Homo sapiens: one gene and its partners. The protein of the gene in region 2 interacts with the protein of the main gene of each other region in a biochemical or structural test. Each region holds a gene or a part of one and is shown on either strand. Other genes may lie near its edges.

The links.
Region 1: the proteins of SORCS2 (region 2) and NGFR interact in a biophysical measurement, tested with the Homo sapiens proteins (one study listed by IntAct).
Region 3: the proteins of SORCS2 (region 2) and NTF3 interact in a biophysical measurement, tested with the Homo sapiens proteins (one study listed by IntAct).

Annotation. Positions count from the first base shown.
Region 1 is NC_000017.11:49,505,293-49,512,292, forward strand, and holds part of NGFR (tumor necrosis factor receptor superfamily member 16 precursor), read left to right. Parts: intron 1-364; exon of another isoform or gene 365-1,006; coding exon 1,007-1,366; intron 1,367-5,119; coding exon 5,120-5,372; intron 5,373-5,524; exon of another isoform or gene 5,525-5,608; intron 5,609-5,690; exon of another isoform or gene 5,691-5,821; intron 5,822-6,599; coding exon 6,600-6,760; intron 6,761-7,000. UniProt on the Homo sapiens protein: Low affinity receptor which can bind to NGF, BDNF, NTF3, and NTF4. Forms a heterodimeric receptor with SORCS2 that binds the precursor forms of NGF, BDNF and NTF3 with high affinity, and has much lower affinity for mature NGF and BDNF.
Region 2 is NC_000004.12:7,195,538-7,202,537, reverse strand, and holds part of SORCS2 (VPS10 domain-containing receptor SorCS2), read right to left. Parts: intron 1-7,000. UniProt on the Homo sapiens protein: The heterodimer formed by NGFR and SORCS2 functions as receptor for the precursor forms of NGF (proNGF) and BDNF (proBDNF). ProNGF and proBDNF binding both promote axon growth cone collapse (in vitro).
Region 3 is NC_000012.12:5,425,596-5,436,380, forward strand, and holds the start of NTF3 (neurotrophin-3 isoform 1 preproprotein), read left to right. Parts: upstream 1-6,512; 5' UTR 6,513-6,729; coding exon 6,730-6,747; intron 6,748-7,673; exon of another isoform or gene 7,674-7,737; intron 7,738-10,785. UniProt on the Homo sapiens protein: Seems to promote the survival of visceral and proprioceptive sensory neurons.

The DNA of each region.
Region 1 (7,000 bases), on a different chromosome or scaffold from region 2:
CTCAGGTTCCTAAATCTATGCTCTTCCTGTCCTTGGAGCAAGGATAGGTCCTGCCAGATCCAGGGTGGCACAGAGTTCCCCACCCAAAGCTGGAAGGGGTGAAGAAGATCTGGCCCTGTTCCTTCCCCTCCCTGTACAAGGAGGCAAGGACCCTGGCGTGCCCAGCCTCCTTCTCCTTATTCTGGAGTGCACATCCAGTAATTAAGAAAACATGAGTGAAGAATGAGCTTGGACATCTCCCTTGCATCCTGGCCGAAAGGGCAGACGACGCATGTGCAGATCTCAAAAGGGTGATCATATAGTTGTGCAGCTTGTGTACTGCTCAACAATATCCATCTGAGAGAGTGAGTGTGGGCTAAGAGCCAGCTCTCTAGCTTCAGTGGCTCCTGCCTTACCTGAGCCCTCTTGCCTGCAGGTCCGTCCCCACCCTCAGGATCCAAGCCCTTCAGCAGCATGGGGGTAGTGCCATGGGTGGGAAATTCTGCTGTCTAACCCCGGTCACTCCCATTTAGGCTGCATCTGAGCCCACACCTGTGTGGAGAGGAACTGAAGGCAGATGAGGCAGGAGGCTCCCTAGGGGAAGGCCTACCTTGCCTGGACCGGGTTAGCAGCCCAGCTCTGGCCCGCGGGGAGGGCTGGGTGGGAACCACGTTCAGATTATTCCTTAATCATGCTGGGAACATAGTACAGGCCTGGGAACTCTCAAAGAGAATTTGCCAAGAAACTTAGCGGCACCAGCTGGGTTATGCCGGAAAGCCTCCCGGCCGGCCAGTGCTTCTGGAGCCTGGAGGATGCGGCTCCGGGCCTCCTCCCCCTTTCCCAGTTGGCTGCCACCAACTTTCACAGGCTAGGGGTCAGGGTCCCTTGGAAGAGGGTGGGAGCCGATGAGAAGGCTGAAGGAGGAAGTCAGCGTCCTGGCAGGCAATAGGGGAGGGAGAGACTCCAGCTCCTGCGTCCCGGGTGCCCAAAAGAGCAGACGACTAAATCTGGTGTCCGCTGCGCTCAGGCGTGACGTTCTCCGACGTGGTGAGCGCGACCGAGCCGTGCAAGCCGTGCACCGAGTGCGTGGGGCTCCAGAGCATGTCGGCGCCGTGCGTGGAGGCCGACGACGCCGTGTGCCGCTGCGCCTACGGCTACTACCAGGATGAGACGACTGGGCGCTGCGAGGCGTGCCGCGTGTGCGAGGCGGGCTCGGGCCTCGTGTTCTCCTGCCAGGACAAGCAGAACACCGTGTGCGAGGAGTGCCCCGACGGCACGTATTCCGACGAGGCCAACCACGTGGACCCGTGCCTGCCCTGCACCGTGTGCGAGGACACCGAGCGCCAGCTCCGCGAGTGCACACGCTGGGCCGACGCCGAGTGCGAGGGTGAGTGCGGTTCGGGGGGCGGGGGGAGTGGGGGTGCGGGGGTGGGCTGGGGGCATAAGGAAGGGCGCTCTCTGGAGGTCGACAAGGACCCTGCCTGGCCTGCTGGGGCAGCTTGGTGACCTTGAGGCAGCGTGCACCTTCCCTGAGCTTCAGTCCTTTCCTGGTAACCTAAGGGAGGAGGTCATTCCCCATCCTGTCTCAGCAAAGAACCCCTCTCTGTGTTACCTTCTTTGGGCTGTTTGGAAAGTGGGCGTTCTCAGCGTCCCAGGCCGCGGGTACTACATTGTAACTCATCCTCCGGGACGCATTTCTCTGTGGCTTCCCGCTAGTGATTAGCTGAACAGCAAGCAGCTCGAAGGTGGCCACTACCCCCAGGGCACAGAACGGGAGAGGTCTGATCCATGAGGCAGGCTTTCTGAACTGGAAGAGCAGCTTGAGGACCCTCAGGAGCTGGGACCCTTTGACTCTGAGCCCTGGTCTAGGTCCATGGTGGGTTTTGGCTCTGGGACCTGAGATGGAACCCACCCTGTCCTTGACTGACGTTAGGGAGTCCACTCCTGTCTCTGGGCCTCGGTTTCCTCACTGGTCATATGGCTGCCAGGGTTGTTGCGGGTTAGGGAATACAGTGGGGCTGGCCCACTTCAGCTTGCCCTGTCTAGGGGAGGGGTCAACCGTGTTCCGCAGTTTAGTGAAGGATGAGGGGCATGCAGGGAACACTAAGGAGGGGCTCTGTGGAAGAAGAAGGAGGGGAGGGGCAGACCTGGGGCTCAAAAGCCCGGGGACAAGGCAGTGCATGCTCGTGGCTGTCAGCTCCAGGGATGGATGGGAGCTGGGCGTGCCCACCTTAGCCAAGCACAGGCCCCAAGGAGATGGGGTGGTTCTTGGGATGGGAGAAGGAAGCCCCGTGGGAGCCAGGGCAGAGCTGTTTTGGTCTCTGGTTGGTGACGTCCGTCTCAGGGGAGACTGGTGGGCTTTTCCACTTCGGGGAGAGGCTGGCAGTGCCTTTACATCCTGTCCATCATCCTGTGGCCATGCACACATTGAGCTATTTCCCTTTGAGAACTAACCTGCATCCTCAGGTTGCCTTTACCCTGAGCAGGCAATATAGTACCTCCTTCAGTGAGCCCCCAGTTTGATGGGAGAGATAGCCTTCGCCCAGTCTAATGAGAGAGACGTGGTCCCAGCACTTAGTCCCCAGCTGAAGGAGAGATAGCTCTCACTTTAGAGATCCCCCATTCTGATGGAGGCAGCAGAGCTTCTGCCTCAGTTAGCACCCAGATCTCCTGCCCCTGGGGACCCTCCAGTCTGATAGGGGCTCCAACCCACACCTGCCTTCCAAGTCCTGCCATCTCTGGCTTTAGGAGCTCAGGATGGGGAGGGCTGTTACGCTGGGCTAAGGCCAGGTTGAGCTCAAAGCTTCCTGCCTTGGAGAAGGAATGAGGAGTAGGATGTGGTGGTTCTGTTGGCAATTGCCCTGGGCCAGGAGACAGGCAAGTGGCATCAGGCGCCAGGCAGAGCGCAGGAAGGGTTTCAGCAGCCAGGCATCAGGCAAGCAGGCAGCTCATTTCTGTAGGCAAGTCCAGACCAGCCAGCTGGGGGCGGGGCGGGGGGACTTGGGGGCGCTGCTAGAGCAAAGAAAGGTGGTGACTGTGGGAGGAGCAGGCTTTGTCTTTTGGGGCATTCACAGATTCCTCTCAGATACCAGCCCACTTTCCCAGCCACCCCGAAGGAGGAGGGTGCTCCTGAGGGAGTGTTCATACCAGACCCTGTTCCCCTTTCAGCTTCAGGCTCTGAAGGGTTAAATGTCAGCTCTGGGACAAGAGACCATTTCAGGAAATGGAATTTGATTCTTGGTTTTGTTGCCCCCTCCCCTCCAGCGTACCATACTTTCCCCGCATTTACTTACGTTTCAGGTGTCAACATGGTGACTCACCCACCCTCAGGGCAGAAGGGCTACCCGCTGCCCCAGTGAAATTCGGTTTGAATAGGGATAACCTGGTCCCTCCATGCAGCCCGGAAATGGCTGTCAGGACCTGCCAAGGGCTTAGTAGGTTGGAATGCTAGTGGACGTGGCCACATCTGGATCTCATCCCCCCGCCCCCGTCAGAGGGGATTGGAGAGATGAGGGCAGCTCCCCAAGAGTCAGTGCCGCCTCTGGTCTGGCCACGCCTTGCTACCCTCCCAGCCTTCCCCTACCATGCTCTGATCTCGGTGATGGTCTCATTCATTGGGCACCCGGACATGTACACTCCTTCACCCTCTGGCTTGGGGTCAGTCTGAGCTGAGCTGTGTCTCCAGCCTCTGGACTTGGGCTGCCCCCCAGCTTGCCCAGTCCCCTGGCAGAGCAAGAGAAGACCCTCCCCAGTCCAATGCTCCACCTGGGGCTGCCAGAAGACAGGGCTCTGTCTCCTTCACTACCTCTGGCCCCTCCCAGGACGGAGACGGGGAAGGGTGGTTTGGGTGACAGATGGCAGCCCCTCACTGCTGGCAGCCAGATGGATTCTAGATTCACATCTGGGGGCTTTGCCCCTCAGAAGGTGCTGAAAACGGGCCTTTGAAGCATTTCATCTTGAGTGGAAGAGGCCAGAAGATGGGTGGCAGCTTCTACTCCTGCTTGGGTGGGCAAAGTGGGGGCTGGGAGGGCAGAGCTGGGAGCCAGTTACCCTCCCCTTCACCCCATTGGCATGTCCTGCCTGCTTTCCCTCCCTGCCCCAGGCGTGGGAAGTGAGGAGGGACGGGGTAGGCAACATTGCCCAGACAAGTATCCCCAGGCCGTCCAGAGCCCACAACCCCTAGCACTGCCCCTGGCTGTGTGGCAGAATGGAAAATCCCACCCACTGGTGCCAGGAAGGGCTGGGTCCCCTGCCAGGGAGGCTGGCAATGCCCAGCTAGCATGAGAGGGTCTAGGTGGGTGGCAAGTCACAGTCTCCCCCCGCCAGCTGAGGCATTGAGCTGGACCTGCCTCATGGGCCCCTTCTCCACTGGCTCTCTGCTTCCTGACCAAGGAGGGTTGGGGCTACCTGATGCTGTCATCTCTGGTTGGCAGGATCAGGCTAGGTGGGAGCCAGGCAAGACAGGAAACAGAGGCTGGCCACTGTCCAAGGGCTGGCTGGAGGGAGGCAATCCAGCTGCCCCCGCACCCCTCCTTTCCACCCAAGCCTAGAGCCTGAGACATGAGGTCAAAAAGTCGGGGAGTGCTCTCAGGGAGGTGGTGTGGGGGAAGCACCTCTCTGACCAGACCTGTGTACCCTCTTCTTTCCTTAGGACAGGAGTGACTAGGGTCATCAAGGACAAGCTGGGGCCAGAGAGACATTTCCCAGAGTGACTCCAGCTCAAGGCCTCCCTGTGGTCAGGCTTCTTTGTGTGTTTGCTCCTAGATAGGCCTCTCTAGGTACTCAGGAGGTGGAATAGAATTCCAGGACCATAGCCCCAGATGGAAGGGAGCTTAGAGACTGTCTCTCTTAATAGCCCCATTAGATAAATAAGGAAATCAAGGTTCTGAGAGAAAAGGGGGCTGGGCCAGAGTCACCCAGCAAGTCAGTGGCGAAGCTGAAGGAGATGCAGCTCTGTGGGCCCACAGGCCTTGCTCTTTAGCATCATGACATCATGCACGCAATCCCAGCTGTGCATAACAGCTGGGCACAAGAGCACCTGGAGCCAGGGCGGGGACACAGGAAGAACACGGCAGTGGGTTAGAGCTAAAAGGGAGGAGTGGGGGAAGTGGGTCCTCACTCCTGTGGCCTTTTCTCCCAGAGATCCCTGGCCGTTGGATTACACGGTCCACACCCCCAGAGGGCTCGGACAGCACAGCCCCCAGCACCCAGGAGCCTGAGGCACCTCCAGAACAAGACCTCATAGCCAGCACGGTGGCAGGTGTGGTGACCACAGTGATGGGCAGCTCCCAGCCCGTGGTGACCCGAGGCACCACCGACAACCTCATCCCTGTCTATTGCTCCATCCTGGCTGCTGTGGTTGTGGGCCTTGTGGCCTACATAGCCTTCAAGAGGTAAGAGAGGGCACGGTGGCGACAGAGAGGGGAGATGTTTGCCCTCAAGGAAGACTTTGCTGTGACCTTGACCTGAAAACATACACACCCTTTTAACTCAACCCCAAACCAAGCTCATCCTCACTCATCATCTGCCGCCCCACTCCAGGGTGCAGCAGGTCAGCAGGAGGTGAGGGGAGAGGATCCACCTGTCCTGTCCTGTCCTCTCCTGCCCTGTCCTGGCTCCAGCCCCTCCCACTCCCATGCCGCACCACTCCCTGACTCCCCACCCCCAACTGCTTGTGTCCTCATCCCCAACCTCCTTCACCCCACAGTCACCTGCGTGTGCATATGTCTCTTCCCCTTCGCTTGTCACACTGGGAATGCTGTGGCACCCACATCCAGGAATCCAGGATGTGCACGAACTCCCAGAAGGCATTTTAAAGCTTTAAATGCATTTTCCATTCTTTCTAAAAAAAAAAAAAAAAAATCATCAAAGTAACACATCCGTGTTTAGGAAAATGCAAACAAGACCAATATCTTTCAAAGCAAAAAGTAAAAGCCCCCTTTTATCTCCCCAAATCCTACTTCTCTCCTTATTGGAATCTGTTTGAAATGGATCCTTCCCAACTATTTTCTGTGTGTCTTTTTTTATAAACATGTATATAAACCTTTTATAATTACATGTAAACATGGAGGGCTTTTTAGGCATCAGTGAGATCACATTGTACATATTCTACAGCTTACTTTTTTCACTCAGTCTCCCTCAGGAGACCTTTCCTCAGGAATGTAGATTAGCTGATCATTTGTAACCACTCATTCAATAGTATGGATGGATGGTAATTTATTTAGCCAGTCCCCATTGATGGACATTTGTTTTTTTTTTTTTTCCAGTTTTTTGTTATTGCTTATAATTGCAGAGGAAATCCTTTTATATGTCACTGCCCACATGTGGGAGTATTTTAGAAGGGTAGATTGGGAGAAGAGGAGTTCCTGAGCAGTCACTTTTGCTGCACTGCTCATTCCAGGAACATTTACTGAACACTTACAGAGGGCCCCTCTGCCCTCATGGAGCTTTCAGGGTAGGTGGGGGCAGATGTGCAAAGAGGAGCCTTAGATGGTGGGGTGGCGGTTATAATTGGGCACCCGCCATGCCCCTGGCCCTCACACGGCAGAGCACAGATACTCAGCTGCATCGGCCACTACAGCCCCTCGCCCCCTGAAACCTGGCCTGTCCTCTGGCTCCAGGTGGAACAGCTGCAAGCAGAACAAGCAAGGAGCCAACAGCCGGCCAGTGAACCAGACGCCCCCACCAGAGGGAGAAAAACTCCACAGCGACAGTGGCATCTCCGTGGACAGCCAGAGCCTGCATGACCAGCAGCCCCACACGCAGACAGCCTCGGGCCAGGGTGAGCAGCGGCCCGCTGGGGAGCTGAGGCGGAGCTGAGGCTGAGGAAACAGAAGCAATTAAGATTAGACTCCAGGAAGGACTGTCGGGGGGGCGGCAGGGCTGGCTCAGCGGTGCCCCTGTAGATGGATGGAGAGGCTGGCCGAGGGGAATGGGAGGGAGAGGTCCTCTCTAGAGGAACGACTTGGGAAATGGAGGCTTTTACAAGTTGGAGCATCCAGACTCATCAAGCTAATTGTCC
Region 2 (7,000 bases):
ATTACTAAGGAAGGAGAGTGCTGTTATTTTAAGATCTTCGAGCTGGTGTGAGAAGAAACTAATTAAATGATTGTAATTTTCTGTGCAAATACAGTAACTGACTGCTATAGAAATGCAAAATAAGAAGGAGATTTTCCACCTCAAAAGGACACTGGAGTTTTACCTTTTATTCCAGTCTTCCAAGGAGAGTCCTCACTCACTCAAGTATCCCTATTCCATTTTTTTAATGACAAATGGAGCTTAATTGGAATAGAGGTGACAAGCACCATAGGCCTTCTGGGAAGCGGTCCCGAGTCATGAGGCTGAATGGAAAAGACGTTGCTGTTGCCCTCAGCGGGCTGCATATCAATCAGCAGTGAGCAAATTGCCTAAGTCTGTGTTTTACAGCCTTGCAGAGCAGGTCAGGGATGGTCTGTGCTTGTGGGAACCTGCTGGGAGCGGGGAGAGAGGTACAGGGCATTCCCCACCCCCACCACCCACTTAGACTGACAGCCCCATGTCTGCACTTCTTCTACACCCAGAATCCAAGCTCACATCCAGGACGGCGCTTTCCAAGAAAAAGCAGGATGTGAACCAATGCAGAACACATGCCTTCACCTTTCCAAAGCTACAGACGGAGACCTTGCCCTCCCGGTGGCCAGAGCCAGGGATCTCTGCTCCCTGGACTTCCAAAAGGGGAGGACGTCGGTCAGGAACAGCAGCTGCAGCACAGCCAGGCTTCTCAGGTCATCGGCATCCCTGCAATCCACAGAGCACCCACCCAAACTAGCGACTAAGGAGGGGCGAGGACAAAGTGGGCCATTCGTAAGAACCTATAAATAACTCATCCTTTGGAGTCTGAAAAAAGAAAGACAAGGCGGCCCCAAAAGAGGAGGCAACGTACAAGCTTCCCCTCCATTTCTTCCTGCACCGGAAAAGGCACAGGGGTTCTCGGCAGCGTCCCAGCTGATTCGCCCGTCACTCCAGTCTGCTCTCCATCGAATCATCTGCACAAGTCTTAGCCTGACTCTGAAAAATCACCATAAAATAAAGTAACGGCTACGCCGAGAGGCCCACGCAAGCTCTGGGCTGCCTTCTCATCTGAGGGGCGTGCCGAGGAATGAGGCTAATTTATGACCTCTTTAGAATACTCTCAGGAACCTTCACGCAACTACAAATTAAATCGCCCTTTATTAAAGTAAAAGTGGATTTGTGAAATGTGCTCAGCAACTTTATTAACAGGGCTGTCTCTATGACTTCGAGCCAGGCTTCTTGATCAACGCACGAGTCTCTCCTGTGCCCATGAGCGCTCCAGGCTGCTCCAGCCCCTAGGCCTCTCCTTCAGCCTTAATATTCTCACCATTCCAACCTCCTCCTCAGCCCGGGACTCTACTCATCCTGCAGAGCAGCTCCATCTTCACCTCCTCCAGGAAATCTTCCCAGACTTCCCCAGCGCAGATTCACACGGCACCTAGAACGCGCTGGGGTGAATTCCTGTCCAGACCAAACATTTCACCCGCGCAGGGGCCAAGTTTGACTTGGCCCCTCACTGAATCCTCAGCAGCTAACAGCGCTAGGCACACAGAGAAGCTCGGTAAAGAGCTGAGGCCAACAGCCACCACGAGCCGGGCCTTGAGCTAGTTTCAAGAAGACAGTGAAGATGCAAGTGAGGTCGACACTCTTAGGAAATAAGATGAAGGAGGACATTGGTGGCTCTGCTGGCCAGGCCCCCATCCATGGAGTGTGTGGCCCCAGCACTGGCCTGACACACAGGAACCATGATCCTCATTTGATAAATGAGGAAAAAGGCTCAGAGAGGTTCAGTCCTCATCCAAGCGTGAACAGCAGGCACGGGTGAGACCAGCTGTGCCTGAAGCTCAACTCTCATGGAAATCTGCCTCCTTCATTACTACTTGAAAGAGGCTGCGGTGAGGTTCTTGGGCTGGGCATTCCAAAGTCTCTTCTACTTCATTCCCGGTCTCCATTCATATAAATAAAATACAAATAAATTAGCAAATGTGTACTAAGCATAAACAACGTCCGGGTTGGTAGTGACCTTGGAGATGGTCTGGTCCTGACGCTCACCTTACAGATGGGGAAACTGAGGCCTGGGGAAGACTGGCTACATGGGTGGCCAGCATGATGGGAAGGGAGGAGTGAGTGCCCAGCTGAGCGCTGCAGGGAGAGAACCCAGGGCTCCCCAGGGAGGAGAGGGAAGGCAGCACTAATGTGTTGGAGGGCAGGGGAGGGACCCCGGGGTCAGAGCCAGAGGCCATGTGGAACAGCATGGAGTGCACCCCTGGGTCCGGCTGGGAATCTGGGCTCACAACCACAACTCTGGACCCCTCAGTCGGCCCCTGGTGGTCCCGCTTCCCACCCCAAACCGAAAGTCCCTGCAGTGGCCTGGAGCATGGACATGGAGCCTCCTTTTGAGCACTTCCAGCGAGGGGGGATCAGGGCCTCCAGAGCAGCACGAGAGCCCATCCACGCTGCTGCCCTGCACGCGGGGCAACCGAAGACAATCCAGCCTCCCCCACCTCTGCGCTTCCCCACTGTGCACCAGAGGGGTGGACTTCCAGCCCAAAGCCAGTTTCTATCCCATAACCCCTCCTGCTCGCATTCCCCGGGAGTGTCGGTCCCTCAGGCAAGGACCCAGCAAGGCAGGGCACCTTAGGTCAGGTGAACTGATTTTGGGGAGTGGGAGAGTGGGTTTGGGAGCTTCTCAGGGGTCCTCAGAGGCAACAGGAACAGACCAGCACTTGAGGGGGTGCAGAGAGAGGACAGAACATGGGGGATCCACAGTCAAGGTCTCATCTGTTGAACTTGGATGAGAATACAAACGAAGGCAGAGTTTGTATTCTGCCTTCCCAGAATGGCCCGCCCCACCCAGGCCAGGGAAGCGGGTCTACGCAGCTCCCCATCCCAGAGCGGCCCGCCCCACCCAGGCCACAGAGTGAGTCTGTGAAGGCCAGACCACAGCAACAGCCTCCCTCGGACCCCAGCCAGGAAACACCATGGGCAGGAGCCCTGCTCAGGGAGCCCCTGCTTCACAGCACAGGCAATGGCCACGGGCAGCCCCTCCACCAGGCTCACCTGCCCTCTACACCTCAGAGATCTCTGCTGCTCCCCTCAGCCACACCTCCCCAGCCTTGCCAGTCATCCTCATCCTCCTCCACCTGTGGCCCATGTGACCCCCTCCCCAGGTGAACTGAGCTTCCCCTGCCCCACCTTGCTCTCCCTGCACTGTGCCTCCACACCGGCCCCACTTCGCTCCTCCTGAATTGCATCCCTGGGGCTCTCTGCCCCCACCCCGCTTTGGACCACAAGCACTTCAAGAGAAGGAGCCCATCCCACTGGCTCCAGGCCCTTCCTCTGCACCCCAGGGCTGACACCCGAAACACGATGACGAAACTAGGGCCCAGGTCGAGAGAGAGCACGGCTCCCCATCCTCCCGGCTCACAGGAGAATCAGAAGGATGGGGACTTCCGCAAAGTGCACCCAGCAGACCCCATGGGTAAGCACCCAGGAAACAAGGCCTGCCGGCTGCTTTGGAGGCAAATATGAGGCCACGTGGAGGGTTCTGGGCACAACACCCTCCCCTTCCTGCTGGGAGCTCTCAACCCATGCTCTGAGTGTCGAGTGACTGGGGCAAGGGCAGAAGCCCTGGGTCACCGTGCGAGCCTGTGGTTTGCACGCCGAGACTTCCCTAGACTCAGCCCGCCCTCTGCATGTCCCCATGTGCTGCCGCCTCTCTCCACACAGAGTCCCCGGCTCCCTCATGGTTCTTCATCCAGCTGCCAGGCCCAGGGTCCCGGACAGGCTTGCCCCACCAGCAGCCAGCTCCTGACAGCAAGTATGACAGGCACTCACCCCTGGTCACCACATCCCTTGACCTCTGCCTGCTTCTGTCTCTCTCCAGGTGGCCGCTGGACACCCTTGGTGATGAGCTATCACGACAGAGATGCACTTCCTCTGGACGGAGGCCCAGCACTCACAGGCCGACCAGCCACAGCTCAGCCACCGGGGGCCACACCTCAGGCTCCAATCCAGCCTCCACCCCAAATGCTGGGAGGCCCACACCATGTGGGCCTAGAATTCCAGAGTAACGCACAGCAAGTTCAGCATACTTAAATACAAAACCCCAAGCTTGGAGCCACCAAGCTGTCCTCTAAGGTGGACTGGAGTTGACATCACAAAACCACAAGCATCGGACACGAGGCTTCAAGTCAGCTTTGTCGTGGATTTGAACCCGTTCATTTAAGAACTCACATGGTCTCTGCACTCTGGAGGCTGGCCTGGAGCCTAGAAGCCCAGCACCACCCAGGACAGAGAGGCCTGCAGAGCCGGGGCAGCCACGTCCTGTGCGCCCAGCCACGCACCTCTCTCCAGCCCACTCTCCTCTCCCTCAGCCCCCTCCACAGCCTTGGTCCAAGCCTCCCTCTGGCAGCAGCTCCTCCCTGAGCCTCTGTCCAGATGTCTCACCCTGCAGCCCTCACCAGCCCCATCCCCCACAGTGCCTCCAGGGCTGTTTCTTGATATCATTCTCTGAGCTCCTGCTGTGGGCCAGGCTCTGATCTGAGCATTTGACATGGAAGATCTCACTTCACCTGCACCACAAACCTATGAGCCTTTACTTCTCCCATTTTCAAGATATGGTCACTGAAGTCCAGAGAATTTAGTCCATTTGACCTGGATCCCAGAGCCAGAGAGTGGCAGGGCCAGGATACAGACCCGGGCAGGCTGCCTCTGAAGCTCAATTGCAATGTCCACCACTCGTCACTGCGACACGGACTCTTCAGCCTCACATCTGGGGTCCATCGGGAGCTGACTTTTTAATCTATTTTTTCCAAACTTCTTTTCTATGGTTTGTCTCCATGCACAATGCATTCACTCTCACTTTATATAACACACACATACCTTCAAAATTCCTACCCCCCAGACCTTGCTCAAGTTGGAATGTTGTTTTCTGGAATGTTCTCCATCTCCTATACACTCCACCTACTCATTCTTTAGGTCAGCCTTGATGCCCTCTTCCATGCAGTCTTCCCTGATTTCCCCATCAGCATTATCGGGGGAGGGTGACACTTGCCCCCTCATATCCTAGCTGTTCATGTCCATCTGCTGTCTCCCACTAGACTACTCTAAGATCCACTTCTAAACTCAGGAGATGCAAAGGAAGCTGAGACCCCTTCCCTGCTATTAGGGTCTGAACTGTGTCCCCCCACCAAAATCCATACGTTGAAGTCCTTAGCACTTCAAAATGTGACTGTATTTGGAAGCAGGGCCTTTAAAGAGGTAACTAAGTTAAAATGAGGTGGTTAGAATAAGCCCTGATCCAATATGACTGGTGCCCTTACAAGAAATGGAGATGAGGACACAGACACACACAGAGGGAAGACCATGTGGAGACATGGGAGAAGGTGGCATCTGCGAGCCCAGGAGAGAGGCCGCAGAAGGAATCAACCTGGACAATACCTTGATCTCTGACTTCCAGCTTCCAGGACTGCAAGAAAATACATTTCTGTTGCTTCAGCCACATAGTCTGTGGCACTTTGCCCTGGCAGCCCTAGAAAGAGAATTCACCTGCCCTCCAGGAACTCGACACCTGGCAGATGTCATGATGGAATTCTCACGCAAACTTGGGGAGAGGCCATGGGTAGTATAGTAGAAGCTGCCACATACCATTAGTTCTTGACCTCTTAACTCAGAGAAACAAGTTTCAGAAGCTCTTCTGATGTGTAGCTCTAGCTCTCTGGGTATAAAATATACACAAATATCGGGTTCATCAAGATTGCAGAACAGAGAGTGTGGGTAGTCTGCTCAGAATCACCTCTGCATTCAACTGCCTTGGATACCACTAACCATGTAGGCGCAGCACAGAGCAGATTTGGAAAATGGGCAGAGGGAGGGGAGGGAGAGGGAAGGGGGAGGGGAGGGGAAGGGAGGGCAGGGGAGGGAGGTGCTGATCTTCTCGGGGAACAATGACAGAGGTGAACAAACTGGACCAGGCTGCAGGAAGCTCACGTTCAAGTCAAATGATACATTCAGCTTCAAAGTTGAGGATCAAGTGCCTTGTGGGAAGGAGCCCAGGTGAGCTGTGCTTAAAATAAGCACAATAAGCCCACGATTTCCCAGAAACATTAAGAACAGGACGGGGCACAGCACATTCCCCATAGGAATAACATGAAACCGCAACCCCAGAGGCTGAGAGCCACACTCTGTAATATTTATCCACCTTCAAATAGCACCGCTGCCTCCAAGGGCAGCTCCGGAGATGCAAAACCCAGAGCTGTGTGTGCACAGCCCACTCTAGATCCATAAAAACGCAATACCTCTTGGTTTCAATGAAACATTAATTTCACACATAACAATTTGTTTCTACAGCTAAACGTCAGACAGGGAGGCGGTGTTTGAACTTCCAAGCAAGTCCCCTTCTCTATCTCCATGGGAGCAGGCAGAACCAAGCCGTTGGAAGGAAAACCCACATAATGTTAAACGGAGCTGTAGCAATGAGGGCTTAAATCCTGGGACTGCTTCTTGTGGGATGCTCTCAAAAGCCATGTTTTAAAGTCCATCTCCCTCATCAAATGCTCCTTTTAATTTTGAAGAACACCTGATATGGTAAAGTAAACACGCTCTCTGTTCATGTTGACCACATCTGCAGAGGGCGGCAAGCAAGTTGAGGAAAGAAAACGTTAAGAAGACTGCTCAGCAAACCAGCCGTGTGAGTTTCTGTCTGGTTGTAGCTTTCAAAGATGGTGCTTTCAAGCAGACGTGAAACCCACTGCCAAATCCTGGCTGAAATCTTTAGTCCTGTGGTTGCAAGATGAGACTAGAGGGAGCAGAGTACATTTCTAAGACACGGCGTGTGCTGAGAAAACAATACTACGCATGCAACAAGCACTAAGGCAATGATTTTTTCTTTTAAAGCAGTTTTACTTAGTTAGCTCAAGATAACAGCCTTCTTGCCTCTTCTGAGTTTTCTCAGGCAAGGTCAAACTCCTGCAGCCTCGCCTGCTCC
Region 3 (10,785 bases), on a different chromosome or scaffold from region 2:
TCATCACGCATTGCTCTTAGGCATGGCTAGCCTGGATGGGTCTCAATTAGGAGTAAGGAGACCTAGGTTCCCATCCTGCTTGGTCTCAAATCCCTGCAAAGGCTGCACCTTGAGTTGCTAGGCATTTACTTCCCAGACATTCCCTGCCCCTTACTACCAGTAAAAGTGGTAAATGCAGGGTGTGGCCAGAATGCTTTTCTAATCCCTAGTGCCACTCCAAGTCCCCCTACAGAGTTAAAGCCTAAAATGACTTCAAACCCAATGGAAGACATTGTGTGATGGAAACAGTTCTAGTTTTCCAGTTGGCTTTCTAGCCATGAATTTGTGTCCTGTGTCCTTTCTCCAGCAGGTCAGGGAAAGTGCAAAAGGCAGGCTTTACTCTACATTGACTGCCCAGTGCTAATGGGTAGGAGCACGTCAGCCATGGGACTCGCAGGGAAACTTGCCACACTTTGAATATAGGAGTCACCTGGCTGTGTCTTGTAACCAGTTGGAGACTTCACTCACAGATGTCACTCTGGGGCTACTGAAAATAGAAGAAATCAGATAATACAAAATTTCTAACTGTATTCACATTAGTGTGTTCTTTGTTTTCTTATTTATATTCACAGTCATGAAAGAAAATGAGGTTAAGTACCTTTACACATGGTAAAACCAAGAAACTGAAAAGTTTAGTTACTTCCCTGAGCTCACAAAACAGTGACAAGACTCTGGATCTCATTTCCCTATCTCCCTGTCTCTAACCCAGGATAATTCTCTGGATTGCATTGCGTGTCAGAATTTCTCTGTTCCTACAGTGTAAATTTCAGCCTTAAGCTCCACCTACAACTTGCCATTTTCGCCCAAAGCATTCAAGATGTTCTTTTGCATCCAGACCCTCCTCCAAATGAAGAAAGCTGCAGTGAAAATGCCACTGAGTTGAGGGGTTGCAAACCAAACCTCCATTCCCATAATTCAATTCTCAGGCCCCAGCCTTCTGCTAAGGCTAACAGATCCACTCCAAAATTTTAAGAGTCCACAGTGATCAAAAGCATCTGTATATTCTGAAACATGCAAATCAACCCTGTTTTTCACATTCATCTCAACATTTGGTGGAGGGCACAAGAGTCAGCTGGCTGCTGAGTGGACGCAGCTTAGCAGATGAATGGAAGGGTCAAATCCCTCTCAAGATTTGTAGAACTGGATCTGAAATATGAAATGCCAGCATACGTGATGAGAGGGATAGTCTATCGAGTGTTTTATCATCCAAAGATGGAATTAATGGCTATGCCATATCTGTGTCAGACCCCGGCAGTAAAACTTTATGGGTTCTTCCCCGTGAAATATTTTGTTTATGTCACGTGGGTCTCATCGGATGTTTTTTTCTCTTTTCTTCACTTCCCCTCCCCACCCTTTTCCCTGCCCTCTTTGTCTCCTGAGACCTATTCCCTTTGGAAATGCATTAGTTACCTAGGAAACCTTAATGTCATTTTTTTATGAGTGGAGTTTGGTGCAGCATAAAGTTAATTTATAGGGTGGTTAGGAATTCATGTCATGACTGGTGAAATAGGAGACTTTATTATGATTTCTACATCCACCTGTGTGGTAGGAATACATACCTTCCCTCTATCATTACGGGTAATTTCTTGAAACGTAATTATGAATATGTATGCCATGTCACAGAATAAGTTGATTCACCGTTGTTCAATGCAATTCATTATATTGTTCAATGTAAGCCCTAGAACATAATTAGCAATAACAACAAACCAATAATATACCAGGCAATCTGTTAAGAGTTGAAGGATATGGTGGAATTTCCTTTTAAATGATGAGGTGGTTCTGGGTGAAAGGCAGAGAATGAATAAGACGAGATTTTGAAATCCTTCAATTCTGTCTTTCATGCACATTGAGGTCCACGTTGGGAAGCTATATAAATTCTAAATATGTCCACTACTTCATTCTGCTGATTTATTTCTGTATTTGTCCAAAGGGGAAAATATACATCCATAAAATTACATTAATGAAATGTGTAGTGGCATACAAATAATAATACACAGGCCATTCCAGAGCCAAGCTTCTTTCTAAAGATAGCTCATTCCCCCAGTGGTGTGACAGTGTTTCCTGTGTAAGGACTAGCAGATCGGGACTGGCATTCACATTGTGCCAGGCACTGTGTTGAATGTTTTAAATTAATTAGTTCCTTTGGTCCTCATATTACTTCTATGAGATTGGTGTTGTCTTCACCAATTGCAGATGGGTTCTAAGAAGTTAAGAAACCTGTACAAAAGCACATGGCTACTGAGTGGAGAAGGTAGAGGGGAACCTGCTTTTCTCAGGCACCAAAATCTACTCTGGCAGTAAATTCTAGGTCGTGGTCTGTCATTATGTTTTTGTTTTTGTTTTTTGTTATTCTGAGTTTCCTCAGTTATTAAATGCAGAGTGGGGGACATAGGGGCTGATAGAAGTTTATCTCTGATGTCTGTATTCTGTGTAGAGAGATCAATGCTAGTCCTTAGAGCAAAGCTGTGCTTTCTTAAAATGACAGAAATTTGGGGGAAGACCTGGTCTTGTTAAATAAACATAAACAAGCCACTCAGTTTCTGTGGACAAGTGCATGCGAATTGAAAGAAAAGAAGAATGTCTCACAGGTGACTCCAGGTCATCTGAGAGGAATTGCTATATGGCTTGACAGCCTGTAGCTCTTGGTGAATAATGCTGTTGCCAGTATATAGAAACGGGTGGGCAGCCAGGAATCTTTCAAGTGCGGAGGCACAAAGGTAGCATGAAGCCGCCTTTCCTGACCCTTAAGCTCCCAGTCCCTGTGCAAACACCTTTTGCATTCACTTTAATTGTTTGAAAAACGAAGACTTCCAGACTCCATCAGCTCTAGCAGCTGTCTGGGTGGATGGGGGTGGGGATGGAGGGGGTAGGGCGAGACCTCCCCACAGCGCCCTCCAGCAGCAGAAGATGCAACTTGCAAATACTTCAGGATCAGTGAGAAGTGTGGTGTTTATTTTAGTAACCTCAAAAGAGAGAAAAAGAAAAGCAGTGGAAGAGGACAGACATTCAAGGCTAGCTACACGATCATGGGGAAAAAAAACAAGCTTGTCTTTGACACGGAAAGGGTCCTTGGAGGCCATTCGGTCCACTTCTCTCATTTCCTGGGTCAACATGTCACAATGAATTAACCACATACTGCCACTGCACAAGACCCCCTCCCTCACCACACGCTGAGCCCCCACCACCAGCATTCAGTCCACTGAGCTCAAACATAGGGAGATAAGTGCTGTTTTCACAAGATAAAGGCAAAATTCAATCCCACGTTGCCGTTTTGTTTCTGTTCAGTGTTCCAACCACAGAGTGGTGCTATTGCAAAAGATAAGGGTAACCAGAAGGCACGCTCTGGAAATTTGCTTTAGGAGAGAGTTTTAAAGGGGGTTTTCAAAAACAAGATCTGATTCCTGCTCTCAGAAATCACTTCCAGGAGTCAGGGCCTTACTCTCAGATGCAGCAGGGAGAAGAAGAAAGTTCAGCAACCTAAAAATACAGTCGACAGATGGGCAGCCAAAGTCATGGCCACGAAGTCAACTTGGAGAGGAGCACCTACCTAGTGAATCCTAAAAGATCTCATCCTGGATGCTTCCTTAACCAGGCCTATGTACAGGGCACAAGCTCGCAGCCAGCTTACTTTCCAGTCCTGATCTTTGCTTTTGCTATCCATACCAATGGTATTTCTATAGAAAAGAAAAATCTCTATTTAGAAACACGGATTTACTTAGAAGTCACAATATTCTAGTTTAAAAATGGCTCTACATAGTAGAGAATGATCTTTTTATTCTGTCTTCTTAAAAATACACCTTTCTAATTCTTTTTTTCTTCCCACCTTCTTCATTCAGCACCTTGCCACTCCCTTGGAAGCCACAACAGCGAGCTGGGGGGTCAGTCCCTAGTCTTAGAGGGAAGAAATCTTTAGGTCTGAAGTCTAAAGAAAAACAGTAAAGGAAAAGGCAGTTGGCGGTGCTCAAGGTAGACTGTCTGAAAGAGGTCTTCTACTCAGAAAAGGGCTAAGGCTCTCCCTTTGGGAAACCAATCCTTCTGAGAAAAAGTGCATCTTTCACCCTCTGCTCCTGTCTGGGTCTCTCCCTCTTCCTCCCTCCTTCCCTCAGTCCCTCCTCCCCTCTCTCCACAAAGACACAGCACATATTTGGCAAGATTAAGGTGTCACCTCTCATATTACAAGGCCTGTTGATTGCAAGCAAAGACAGACCCACCAGCTTAGGACAAAACCCCTTGGAGTTGGAAATAAGACAAACTCTGGGATCCCCGAAAGTCCCGGCAAAATGACGCGGCCAGCCAGTGCAAGGCATCTGCAGAACAAATCCAAGTCCTAAACGCACTGCTTGCTGCCTTTTCTTCTCCTTCCTTTCTTCTGATTTTTCAAGTTTGTTTGCCCCCCTTCCCCTCCTCCCTCCAGACTGCCAGGGACCTGGGAGCTGCCTGCAGATCAGCCCGCACATGTATTTAACCCCTTCCCTGCTGCAGCAGGAGCCAACCACCTCTTTCCTTGCAATCTTCAGGTTCCCAGAGGACCTGGAGCTTGAGAAAAGAACTCTGCCAGTGGATCTGAAACTGGGGCCTGAATCCCTCCTTTGACCAGGGCGAGAAGCTGGAGGAGGGGGGCAAGTGCGGGAAGTGGGGGAGGGCAGGGAGGCGGGCCAGATGAGAGGGAGAAAAGCAGAACCCGACAGAGCACGCCCAATCCAAACCTTCATGGTGCTGTGTGGCTGGGTGGAGGGAACGACTCGGCAGCCTCTTCTGGCCCTGAGGAAGACGTCGATATTTTGGCACGAGGGGAGCCACTGAAGGACTACCCTACCCTTGCGAGGGACCGCAGGAGGTGACGCCCCTGGGCCTCGGTGGGCGCTTCTGGCGGTTTTCGATGTGGCAACCCCCATCAGCCAGGATAATGATGAGGCAGGTACAATCTATCTAGTACGCAGCCCCCAGACTCCCCCCTCCCTTCCCACCTCCCCATCCAACCCCCCAGCTACTCTCTGCGGCCGGTTGGTCCTGAACTGGTGGGTGCAGTTCCGATGTTTAACCAAATTCTCAAGCAATTTCAAGGTATTTGGATTTTTTGAACCTGGGCCCTAACCGAAACGCGGAACGGCTTGCTTATTAGACACCTCGAACGACAGGGCAGGGAGGAAACGGGATACTCGCTGCCCTTCCCAGTCGCGCGTGAGTCAAAAGGTCCTGGCAGGAGATGATGTGAGGAGCGGCTGAAGTGGCAGGGAGGAAGGGATGAGGGGCTTGGAGCGGAGGTCCACCACGCAAGGACTCGGGAAGCGGGCAAGTGGGCAAAACTCTGCTTCCGGGCTCTCGATTTCTCGTTGATCACTAAGTGGTATTTTTCCCCCTTCTCTCGATGGCAAATGGGCGAAATCAAGATGACTTAACTTGGTAAATTTAGAGAGAACGGCTCGGAGCAAGTGAGGTCTAACGGGCAGCTAAAATTATCTCCAAATAAGAGATTTTGACCCCCTCCCCCTATCCTCTCCTCGAATGTATCCACCGGTGGGGAAGTGAGCGTCATTACTTTCGGGGCGCCACGAACAGGTTTGTTTGTTGCTCGCCTTTCCTGCTTCTCGCGCTGTCCCCGCGTGCAGACTGGTGGGTGCTGGGCGAGTGATTAGCTGCAGGGCCCCATCCTAGTTTGGAAGGAAGGGGTTTAGAAGTTGGAGGATGGGTGAAATGGGAGGCTGCGATCCATCTCCCTCTCCCTTCCACACTCAAGCTCCCGCAAACACGCGCGCGCACACACAGCCCCTCCCTAGTCCCTCGGACCACCCGCCCCCACGCCCCTCTACCTTGACCTCCCTTGACCGCCGACACAGCGTCCTGGGTGCGGGTCCCCGGGAGCGGGGAGTTCGCCGGGGAGCGATTGTCCTTGGGCGTGTTCGTGCTGTGGGGTGGGGGGAGGAGTGGCGGGTGGGCTTGGTAGGGGGTGGGGAGAGATCTGGAGCTGGAAGGGTCTAAGGTTTGGAGGAGGAGTTTACGCCTCAGACCTGATCCTCCTGAGGAAAAAGGCAGGAAAAGGCCCTGATGCCTTGTAAAGAAAATCTTGAAAGAAAAAAGATCAAAAAGAAAAATTTCAAGAAAAAGAACCACTAAGAAAGGCTGAAGACACTAACATGTAACCTGTTACGATACATTTAACGTTTCGTTTTTTCCTGGATCTCTAAAAGGGAACTCAAGGGTGGGGGTTACTGAAGAATACTACAGATTTGGAAGTTTTTGTTGCTGTTGTTGTTTGGTTTGGTTTTGTTTTTCAAGAGGGGCCAGGAGAAATGACCCCTTCCCCGCCACGGGTCCCGAAGTGAGGGCGGGGGGGGGGCTCTGGGGCGCGGGCGCGCGCGGCGCGGCGCGGGCCGGCGGGGGAGGGCGGCGCGGCGCGGAAGGGGTTAAGGCGCTGAGCGCGGAGCCATCTGGCCGGGTTGGCTGGTTATAACCGCGCAGATTCTGTTCACGGGACTCAGAGTTGAAGCTCCTCTCCCTTCCGAACAGCTCCGCGCACCGCCCCGCGACGCAGCCCGGCGCAACTACTTTCTTCTCTCTCCTTTCTTTCTTCCTCTCCTTTTTCCCCTGCTGGGTAGTGGCTGCGGCGGGGTGGGGGAGACTTTGAATGACCGAGCTCGCGTCCACCTTTCTCTTCATGTCGACGTCCCTGGAAACGGCCACACGGATGCCATGGTTACTTTTGCCACGGTAAGGGGAGGCGGCGGGCACCTTGGGTGGGCAGGTTTGGGGATGGGGGTCCACGTGGGGAGGGATTTTCCAGTGGACTGGTGCGGGGGGCCCCAGATCCGCATCCCGCCCCACCCCCATCGCGCCGCGCTCACTCACTTTCCCGGGCTTGTGTCTTCCCCAAAGTTTGCGCTGGGATCTGCTCAGGCCGAAGCGCAACCGCAGCCACCCCGCTACACACACACACACACACACACACACACACACACACACACACACACACACAGACACGGACACCCTTCTCCACCTCCTCCCCTCTTGTCCCTCGGCTGCCCAAGAAGCTTCCCTCAATCTGGGAAAGTGATCAGGTTTAAGGGACCTGGATTGGAAAGGGTGGGGGCAGAAGAGGGGAAATGGGGACGACGAAAGAGCAGGAAAGAGATTCAACAGAATCAACCACCCACCACTCCCAACCGACCCGCCTGCTCCTCCGAGAAAGCTCCTAGCGCATCCTATAACAAAAGGGGGTGGCAGACAGAACTCCGGGCGGGGAGGTGCCGCGGCAGCTCCCCTGCACACGCCCTGCACTCTGCCGGCCGCTGAGCCTGATTCTCAGCTCGCCCCAGCACCACTCTGGCCCGGGCGTGGGCTGGGGGGAGGGGACGCGCAGCTCAGGACCCGGAACCTCGCGTTCCAGTTTTGGGAGTTGGGACTCACTGCCACGCGCCGCGTACCTGCGTTGGAGTTCCCCGAAAGGGTTTTTTCAGAAAAGACCTCGCGCCCCGGGCTCCTCTTGGCCAGCGCCCACCCGGTGGCCACCCCACCCTGGGCCTTTGCGCAGATGTTGGAGCTCCGTACGCAGCCCGCACATCTGGGACCCCTCCGGGGAGCGGCGGGCACCCGGGCCCGGCCATCCCAGGGGATCTCCTTGCGGTATCGTCCAGCCTGTTCTCGGACTTTGAGCGGTGGCGTGGGAGGCCGGGAGACCTGGGCACCCGCGCAGCCAGCCAGGTCGGAGTTTAAAGGTCCCACGACGGACCGAACTGTCCCATTGCCCCAGAGCTTTACTCAGTGGTGGATGCTCCTGATGAAATTTGGGACGCTTGGGAGTTGAAGGTTAGGGACAGGAGGGGCGAGGGCCGAGGGCATGGGATGGGGGAGTAGGATTCTGCTTGTTGCTCTCCGCGGGAGTGGGTGCGCGTCCAGGAGGCGCTGCTTCTTTGCGGGAGTTTGGCTGCTGCGTTCATTCGTCGTCTGCGCTTCAGATGCACGGCACTGAGACCCTTGCGTCCGACGGTGTCGGGGCTGTGGACTAGAAAGGATCCCTTTTGCTGGAATCGAGGCTGGGGTGGGATTGCCGGTGGGGGAAACACCGAAAAGATCGTCTGGCCTCGGCCTCTGGCGGCGGGCGGCAGGTTCTGAGTCCGAATGGAGGTTGCTCCCGGGAGCGCCGGGCTCAGAGCTAGAGAGCTCGGGAGACTGTGCGCCTGTGGACTTGTTTATGTGTGTGAAGAGGCGGGGGCGAGGGCCTGCTGAGAGGGGAGGGGAGCCTGGAAGGGGTGGGTGTTTCTCCTGGAGCCTGATGTTTGTAACTCAGCTGATTATGGAGTGCACTGAGCGACCTGCTTTTTAAATAAAGAGGTGCCCGCTCCTACCCCGCAAAACAGCGAACGAGGAGAACATGGAAGCGCTCTGTCCTAAACGTCAGGATGGGAGAAAGTTGTAACATAGAGGAGACTTTTCCAGAGGTCCTGTTTTCACAACACTCAGAAGTTCTCCAGCGTACTCAGCCTGCCTCCCGCCTGCCCTCAATTCCTTTTTGACATGTCACACAAAGAAAGCTGAAAGGTAGAATGTGGAGGATAAACTCCAACCCCCTCTGCCTTGGGCGCAAACACACAGACTTAGGTATCGTGTTAGGAGGTAAGGGGGTTGGAAAATAATGCAGGCTCCGGTAGACAGTGTTGAAGGGAGATAGAAAGTCTGGGGTATTTCCCCTAGGGAGAGTGTGTGGGATTTTGTGTTGGTGAGGACTGGAGTGTAGCTGGACTTAGAGGGTTTGGTTGTGTGTGAATGGGATATGCTTATCTATGGAGTGAGATTGTGACCATTGAGTGAGTGGTCAGGGAGGGATGGGGATGTTTTTCCAAAGTGTGTGTGTGTGTGTGTGTGTGTGTGTGTGTGTAGGGGAAGGTGGCAAAAGAGCTGGAGTCCTATCCCTCTTTGGTGCCTGGGAGGTGTGTGTTTCTGGGGAGTCTGTCGGATGGGCATCTGTGTGCTTAGCGGGAGACAAGAGCTTGCAGGAACATAGGTGTAGCTAATGCGAAATCTGTGCCTATGAAGGGTGTCAGAGCAGGAGGAGAGGTGCAGCCTGTTGAAGACAGATGGCTTGTGCATGCCTGCACAAACACATGGAGTGGGTGTGGTGTAGGAGGGCGGCTGTGTGTGTGAGGGAAAGGTGGATGCATGTGGAAGGTTGGGCGCCTGAGGATTACCAAAGGGATGTGTGTGGGGGGTGGGGGAAGATTATCTGAGGAGCACGGGGTTTGAACTTCATGAGGGTGCACTGGGAAATTTGGCTGGAATGGCACTGGGGCATGTAGGGGGTAGAAAAGTGTGAGCTCAGATCCTCTTTATGGAAAGACAAAGCATTTGCAGGGAAGGACACCGGGTTGGTGTTGGTGTTTGCCTCCCCCCTCCTTCCTCCCCAGAGAGAAGAGAATTGGAGGAGGCTTAGAATGAGGGATGTACATTTAAGGGGAAAAGTCCTTGTGCATTGGCACTGGGTGGGAACAGGAAGAGATGTGTGCATAAGACTGAAGTAAGTAGAGGAATGCACTATCTGTGCCTGGTGTCAGGGATGCATGTTGTATAATGTTTTGTAATGGGTTTCTTATGTAATAGGAGAATTCACTATCACCAGTTCATATTGATAATCAATTAAAGCTAATGGAGTGCCTACTGGATGCTCAGCCCATTGCTGGGTACTGGGGCATGGCACACTGCCCTGGAAAAATTCCTTCTCCAGGCTCAGTAAAACTGATGCAATTTTGCCAGAAATAGACAGAGCTCGACGCTTGTTGAGGTTTCTTCAAGGTCTATAATTCAGTTTCTAGAGATGTTTATGGATCTTGGGGGCCAAAGGGAAGCTGACTTGAAATATATCTCTGGTTTTGTAAAAAGTGGGGCATAAAGAGAGGGATGATGTAGACTTTTGTGTATTGGGAAGGGAGCTGGACGGTGTTGTTGTTTCTTGTGTGGGGTGTGGGCTGGGAATTGGAGGGTGCTGCACTTCAGGTCAGAATGCAGGTCCAGATCCCTCTAAGGATTGAGTTTCTAAGAGTACACAGAGCCTCCTTCATAGCTGGAATGAGACCTGTTATGTGGAGCTGGAGAATGGTGAAGTCATGATCAAGGAAGAGATGGACTGGGAGTGTTTGTTCATCTTTGATGTTTTCTGGGCTACGAGTGTAAAGCTAACCTGAGTGTGTGTTGGGGGGGTGGGTATGCATGCAGGTGCGTGCACATGCACTTTGGCCTGGAGTAACGTAACTGGGAGAAAACTAGCGAGGTGGATAGGAGGGGTGGATATTCTGGCTCTTGTGAAGGGGGTGCCAGTATGTGTTTTTGCAGGAATTCTGTGTGTCTGGGGAAGGATAAAAATTGTCTTGGATACTCAGATGTGCATCTTTAGCGAAAAAAGGTGTACACAAAAGAAGGGCCGTAGACTTTGGGGAATGAGACAAAGGTGTCGTTGATCGGGTCCATACCCTGAGATGGCTGGTGAGGCAACTGGGTAGGAACAGAGTGAAGGCTGTGCTTTTGTGATGCACACATCTGCCTGTCTGGAGCAGACGATGGGGATCCCCATTTGATTAGGTTCTGACCACCGTTGGGCATATGTTTGGGAGGACTTTATTTGACTCATGACATTTTTGAATTCATGAAGTTACAGCTGTGCCATTTTAAGGGTCTACCTTATTTTTGAGAGGGAAACTCATCTGTGTAAGAGATAGTTTATATAGGGCTTGACTATTGGTCAGAAGATCCGGGGCAGAT